Homo sapiens: one gene and its partner. The protein of the gene in region 1 purifies or fractionates together with the protein of each later gene. This does not show direct contact. Each region holds a gene or a part of one and is shown on either strand. Other genes may lie near its edges. The genes, in order: SCRT2 and S100A13.

Region 1 (3,820 bases):
CACCCAGCAGGGCCCAGCCCTCCTCAGGAAAGTGGGCCGCCGGGGAAGCTGGCCCCCCACCAGGCCCCTGTCTTTTTCTGCCCATTTTAGGACAGAGAGGTGAGGCTGAGGCTAGGAATTCCCTGGAGAAAGTTTGGCACCTTGGGAGTCTGGGAGAGACTGGGGAAAGGAGTCCTGGACTGAAAAAAAGGAAAGAAAAGGAGGCCAACCCAGCTCTGATGAGAACTTGTTTTGTGACCTGAGGTGGGTCAAGGCCTTTGTCTGGGCTTCAGCTTCTGCAGAACAAGGGCATGGAGGGAAGTGACCTTAGACATGAGCTAATGTGCACAAAGCATTTAGCAGGATGCCTTGCACCAAGTAAGTGCTCAGTAAGTGATAGGCATTACTGTTATTAAGTATGATTTACAAATACTTACAAGAGGCTGAAGCATTTTCCACAACAGCTTCTCCATGCCCCCACCACCCCGTGCCCCCACCCACCCCACCACAGGCTAACTAGGGAGTGTTTGAGGAAACGCACCACCCCTTCCCCTACCAATTGAAGATCTCTTCCCCAGCAAGTCTCCATGCCCTCTCTGGTGTTTTGGAAAAAACACAGGCCTTGGAGGGTTTCAAACCTGCCGCCTCCCTCTCAGTGACCTTGGGCAAATCCTCTCCCCTCTCTGGGCCTCTGGGCACAGGGCAATGTCTGGCTCACAGGGAGGCTGGTGCTAGTTGGAAGCACCAGCAGTAGCAGTAGCAGTATTTGTTACACATCCCCCTCCATCCCCGCAGGGGGTCAGGCAGCTAAATGAGACAGTGTCTGCAGAGGGCCCAGCACCTTAGTTCTCATAAATTTCCCTTTCACCACTCCTTTGAGTACCGATTTTTAAAAAGACAGATTCTGGACCTTCAGTCTAAAATATCAAGACTCTTGGGCAGGGAAAACCAAAGTCATTTCCAGGTGACATGTGCACATCTCCAAAGTATTTCTGGGCCCTCCCCATATCCCTACATGACAGGGGTGCCTCTGGTCCACATTCCTCAAATGGAGGATTTGAGCCCAGATAAGTTATGCGACTTACCCAAGGTCACATGGCTACGGCCTGAATTCAAGGGCTAGGATGAGAGATCTCACCTGAGATTCTCTTTTCTCTGAATCCCAGCTCATCCCTATCTCTGTGGGAACCCAAACAAGAGTCCTGTCTCACCCTGTCAGTTGCAGGATAGGTATCTCAGCCTTCTATAGTCACTCTTAGGGCAGAGGAAGGTACCTGTCTGGGTTCCATGCATTAGGTTAAAGTATGGCTTTTAGTGTCCTAAAGGAGTCTCCAGGGTTGAGGCTCAGAGAGGTGAGGTGGTTTGCTCAAGGTCACACAGCAGCCTAAGACACCCATGTGTATCTCCTACTCTCTGGCAGATTAGAAGGATATATCACCAGGAAACACAGGAATACTACCAGTAACAATAATAACAGCTCAAGAGGGCAGCTATTATGTGTCAGGCATTGTCCTAAGCACTTTACATGCATTCATTTATTCAGCCTTATTATGAACTCCCTTATACAGGTGTGGCAGAAAGATGTTAAGTAACTTGCCCAAGGTTGCCTAGGGAGATGTCTGTGAATCTGAGGAAAACGGGGTGGAATTGGAGGAGCTGGGAGTGGAGGGGACAAAGAGCATCATGGAGGGACTGATTCAGCCATGATGCAGAAAGGGTCTTTAGACCATTCCAGTCCATCTTTGTCATGTATAGATTCCGCCCAGAAAGGTTAAGCAACCTGGCCACAGTCACAAAGCAAGTTAGAACCACCTCCTCCTAACATGACCACACAAACTCTCACAGGATGCTCTCAACCCATGCCAAAATCCACTGACTGGGTGTCTGGTCTGGGCTCACAATTCCTATCCTGAAGACACTTCTGCAGCCCTCCCTAGGCAAATGAGCAGCCTTTGTTGAAGGCACCCCTATTTCTTCATAAAGAGCCCCTTGCAACAGGAGGAAAGTCAACAGCGCTGAGGGCCACCAGCAGAGGGCGCCATGGGCAGAGCACCTCATGGAGAACGCTCTGGTTCACTGATGGAGCTCCTACTATGCACCAGATATTTTCCCATCAGAACGTGAAATAGAAATTACACATCCCGGGTGAGGAAACAGAGGCCCAGAGAGGAGCAGCACGATGTGTTGGGGCAGATGCCAAGAAAGCTGCAGCACAGAAACCCATCTGGGGAGATTGTTATTATTGTTCATAATAACAGCCAACATGCGTGGTGGATTTAAAATGTGCCAGCCACTGAGCTGGAATCCTGGCTCTAACTTATCAGCTGCACAATCTTAGGCTTGTTACTTAGCTTCCTTGTGCCTTGGTTTCCTCTTCTATAAAAGGGTACCTACCACCTTGTGTGTCATGGGGGTAGAATGCTTTCATGTGTGGAAAGCCCTTGTAAGAGTGCCTGACACAGGAGTGCTCTGAGAGTGCTGGTTATCATTTGTTTATATACTGTTTACTGGCAGACCCCTTACTGAAACGGTAGAGTCACACAGAGGCCAAATCGTTTGGCCAAGGTCACACTGCTGGGAATGGTAGAGCCAAAACAATCCAGGCCGTCTGGCACCAAAGTTTTACTCTTATCCAATATGTCATCCTTTAATAATAGAACTCAAAGCACTGGTTACGTGATCAGTCACCCCTCCAGATAAATCCCATTTTAAAAAAAAAGGACCTGAAGCACAACCCACCCAAAGGCACTCAGCTGGAATCTGTGTTGGAGAACCAAACCACCCTTCCCCTTCCATGGCCCCAGACACATGAGATGCAGACCTGCCCTGAGACCAGGTGAACAGGACTGTCTATACCAGGTCCTGCTAGGCTGGGGAGTGAGGCTGGCCTCGCAAATCATCATCACTCATTCCACAAATACTTATTAAGTGCCCACTAGCTAGGGCCCTGGGAATGGGAGGTGAACAGCTCAGCCACAGCCCCCTCCTGGAGGACCTCCCAGTATGTGGGAAACCAAGGGGGCAGTGGATTCCAATCCTTGCTCCACCCCTGGAGCAAGTGCCATCACCACACTGTCCCTCAGTTTCCTTATCTGTGATGAGAGTAGTTTTGTGATGATTCAGTGAGATGATGGGAGCGAAGCACTTAGCACAGAGCCTGGTGCACACAGTAAGTGCTCAGTGAATATTAGCTATTATTATCATCACCAGGAATTACAACGTGAGGAAATACAGAAGGAGAAGGAGGGGGGTCTGGGAGTGCCTGACGGGTATTTAACTCAGTCTGAAACAACACTCCTGAATGTTCTGGGACCTGAGTACCAGGCCTGGTTCCCGGAGTGGGAAGCAGGGGGACCTCCAGACCACAGGCAGATGGGACGGGAGACATAGGGTGCGGAGAGGCTGGGCATCTCCTCTCCCCAGATTAAAAAATTGCCACTATCACTATCCCCCTTTACATCCAACCACAGAGCCCCCCGCTTCCGAGTCATCCACTTCCATAATCCACAATGACTTCTGTGTGCAGAGGGCCCTGTGCTGGCTGCTGAAGGGACAGAGGTAAAAATAAGGGCACACCCTTGCCTTCAGGGGCACACAGACTTCACCCTGTGTCCATCCCAAACTCCAGATGAGAGGCAAAGGCCTGGAGGCTGAATCAGCCAGGCTGTGTGGGAAACGAAAGCTGACCAGAGTACCCAGCTAAAAGTCTGAACATCTTGAACCCTGTTTCCCCTTACAAAACCCTCCTCCACCTGCTCACTTCAGTGAAGGAGGCTAGGGGAGGAGGGAAGGAGGAGTGGTTACAGGTCTCAGGGGTCACCAGGAGAAGGTCAAATCCCAC
Region 2 (3,424 bases), on another chromosome or scaffold:
AAGAACAAAGCTTCCACAGTGTGAGAGACCCGAGCGGGTTGCCCGAGATGGGGTTTCATCACGTTGGCCAGGCTGGTCTTGAACGCCTGACCTCGAGTTATCCACCCGCCTTGGCCTCCCAAAGTTCTGGGATTACAGGCATGAGCCACCATGCCCAGCCAGTAACATTTTATAATGTTAAAAAGAATCCTGTAGGCCGGGCGTGGTGGCTCATGCCTGTAATCCCAGACCTTTTGGAGGCTGAGGTGGGTGGATCACCTGAGGTCAGGAGTTTGAGACTAGCCTGGCAAACATGGTGAAACCCCATCTCTACTAAAAATAGAAAAATTAGCAAGGCGTGGTGGTGGGTGCCTATAATCCCAGCTCCTCGGGAGGCTGAGGCAGGAGAATTGCTTGAACCCAGAAGGTGGGGGTTGCAGTGAGCTGAGATCATACTACTGCACGCCAGCCTGGGCGACAGAGTAAGACTCCATCTCAAAAAAAAAAAAAAATCCTGTAGATAGTTTAATTGGGATCATATAAAAGATATATTTTAGGGAAAATCAACATTTTTAGCTGATTGAGCCTTTCTCTTTAAGAAAAATATATGTTTATTCCATTTTCTATTTATTCAAGGTTTTTTTTAATATCCCTGTGGTATAATATGAAATATATAGTTGTCATTTTGTATCCATGGGAATTGTTCCCAGAACCCCCTTGGATGCCAAAATCCTTGGATGCTCAATTACCTTTTTTTGTCCTTTTCTTGTAGAGATGGGTGTCTCACAATGTTGCCCTGGCTGGTCTTGAACTCCTGGGCTCAAGCGATCCTCTCACCTTGGCCTCCCCAAAGTGCTGAGATTGCAGGTGTGAGCCACCATGCCTGGCCTCAAATCCCTTATATAAAATCAGATAGTACTTGCATATAACCTATGCACATCCTCCTGTATACTTTAAATTACAAGTAACTCTAGGTTACTTGTAATACATAATGCAGTGCCTACTCATCACTTCATTCACATGGATTCAACTTAGTACTTAGCATGGGGCAAAATTTAAGTTTTGCTTTTTGGAACTTTGTGGATTTTTTTCTTCAAATATTTTTGGTTCTAGGTTGGTTGAATCCAGGGCTGTGGAACCCACTGATACTGGTATGGTATTTGGTATTTGGCCTTTGTTTTGTTTCTGTCACAGCTCTTTTTTTTTTTTTTTTTAGATAGTCTCACTCTGTCACCCAGGCTGGAGGGCAGTGGCTTGATCTCGGCTCACTACAGCCTCTGCCTCCCACACTCAAGCGATTCTTCTGATTCAGCCTCCCAAGTAGTTGGGACTACGGGTGTGCACTATCACACCGAGCTAATTTTTGTATTTTTTTTTCTTTTTTTGAGACAGAGTCCCACTCTGTAGCCCAGACTGGAGTGCAATGGCGCGATCTCTGCTCACCACAACCTCCGCCTCCCAGGTTCAAGCAATTCTCCTGTCTCAGCCTACCGAGTAGCTGGGATTACAGGCTCCCACCACCATATCTGGCTAATTTTTGTATTTTTAGTAGAGGCAGGGTTTCACCATGTTGGCCAGGCTGGTCTCAAACTCCTGACCTCAAGTGATCCGCCCACCTCAGCCTCCCAAAGCGTTGAGATTACAGGCGTGAGCCACCGCACCCTTCCTGCTTCTTCTTTCTTAATACTTATTTATTTCTCTTTACTGATTGAATGCACCCCCAATATAATGTTACAGTAGCCATCCTTGCCTTCCACTGGCAGTGCTTATAGTATTTTATAATTAAACGTGGTTGTAACTTAAAAAAAAGTCTTTTTTAGTTCTTCTGTGAATCAGCTTTGTTCCCTTTAGAGATTCAGTGAGTCTTCTCTGTCTGCATCCAAATGTTGGTTCAAACCTTGAGCCTCACACCCTGCCTGAGGCACCCTTCTCTGGTTTGATGTTGAACTATTGTTCAACAGTCAACTTTTTGGTTGTGCTTGTTTATCTGGCAACAGGTCCTTCGATCAGGACATCCAGTTTACTGTTGCCATTGATTTCACAGGCCTATGAGAGATACCCTGTCAAGGGCCCCTAAAAACCCAGATACTCCATGCCCTTGCCATTCCCCTGATCTAGTGACCCAGCTGGATAAATGAAAAGACACAAGGGTTGTGCAAATGAGCAGCTAAGTACTGGGAGCTTCTCCAGCTTTCTGAGAAAGAGGAGGGTGGCCCCAGAAGGCTCTGACTGGGTCCAACCCTGCAGCATCTCCCTGAGATGCTGGCATTCCTTGGGCCGATCCCACAGCAGCTGCAGTGGTGTGCTGGTGAGAGAAGATTGTGTGGATTTCTTTCCAGCTTTGTATTCAGCGACAACCTGTTTGTGGTTTGTAAGCAGCCATCGTGGAAGTATTTACACAACGGCAAGCACTAGGACTCAGGCCCCCCCACCTTTCTCTGCTGGTGCTCCTTGGAGAGGCACCCCGTGGCGGTGCAGTTTTGGGGCTGCAGCCTCCTTCTTTAGAGAAGGGGCAGGTGCCACTGCTCTCTGAGGGAAGGGCCTTGAGAGAATAGCAGCTGACAGTTCTTCCCTCCCTACTTTCTCAAGAACCCCAGTTTCTAACTCTACCCTTCCCTTTGGTGTCTCCTCAGGATGTGGGCTCTCTTGATGAGAAGATGAAGAGCTTGGATGTGAATCAGGACTCGGAGCTCAAGTTCAATGAGTACTGGAGATTGATTGGGGAGCTGGCCAAGGAAATCAGGAAGAAGAAAGACCTGAAGATCAGGAAGAAGTAAAGCCGCCTGGCTGAGATGGGGTGGGCAGGGCAGAGCTGATCAGGGCCGAGCAGAACCGCACTCTTCCCAAATAAAGCTTCCTCCTTGAAACACAAATGTTTCTTACTTACACCCCATCCTGATTTCTTTTCTTGAGACCAGAGAGTGGGAAAGCTCTCTCTTGACCTGAGGATGGATCTGAAAATTATGAGCCCCTTGAGGACAGGGAATGTTATTCATCTTTGAATTCCGCAGCATCTAGCACCAGGTCTTGTACAGAGCAGGTGCCCAATAAATGGTTGAATGAATATATGAAAAGTAGAGGCAGAGGGCTGGGCACAGTGGCTCACGCCTGTAATCCTAGCACTTTGGGAGGCTGAGGTGGGTGGATCACTTGAGGTCAGGAGTTCGAGACCAGCTTGGCCAACATGGCTAAACCTCATCTCTATTAAAAATACAAAAATTAGCTGGGCTGGTGCCTGTAATCCCAGCTACTCAGGAGGCTGAGGCAGGAGAATCACTTGAACCCAGGAGGAGGAGTTTGCAGTGAGCCGAGATCGCACCATTGCACTCCAGCCTGGGCGATAGGAGCAAAACTCCATCTCAAAAACAAAAAACAAAACAAAACAAAAAGAAAAAAGAAAAGTAGGGGCAGAGATGTGGGGCAGGAGAGGTGACTCGGGCTCAGC

What was found.
Region 2: the proteins of SCRT2 (region 1) and S100A13 purify together in Homo sapiens (affinity purification with mass spectrometry; one large-scale study listed by BioGRID and IntAct). This does not show direct contact.

What each region holds. Positions count from the first base shown.
Region 1 is NC_000020.11:665,793-669,612, reverse strand, and holds part of SCRT2 (transcriptional repressor scratch 2), read left to right. Parts: intron 1-3,820. UniProt on the Homo sapiens protein: May be involved in transcriptional regulation.
Region 2 is NC_000001.11:153,618,227-153,621,650, reverse strand, and holds the end of S100A13 (protein S100-A13), read left to right. Parts: intron 1-2,612; coding exon 2,613-2,756; 3' UTR 2,757-2,852; downstream 2,853-3,424. UniProt on the Homo sapiens protein: Plays a role in the export of proteins that lack a signal peptide and are secreted by an alternative pathway. Binds two calcium ions per subunit. Binds one copper ion. Binding of one copper ion does not interfere with calcium binding.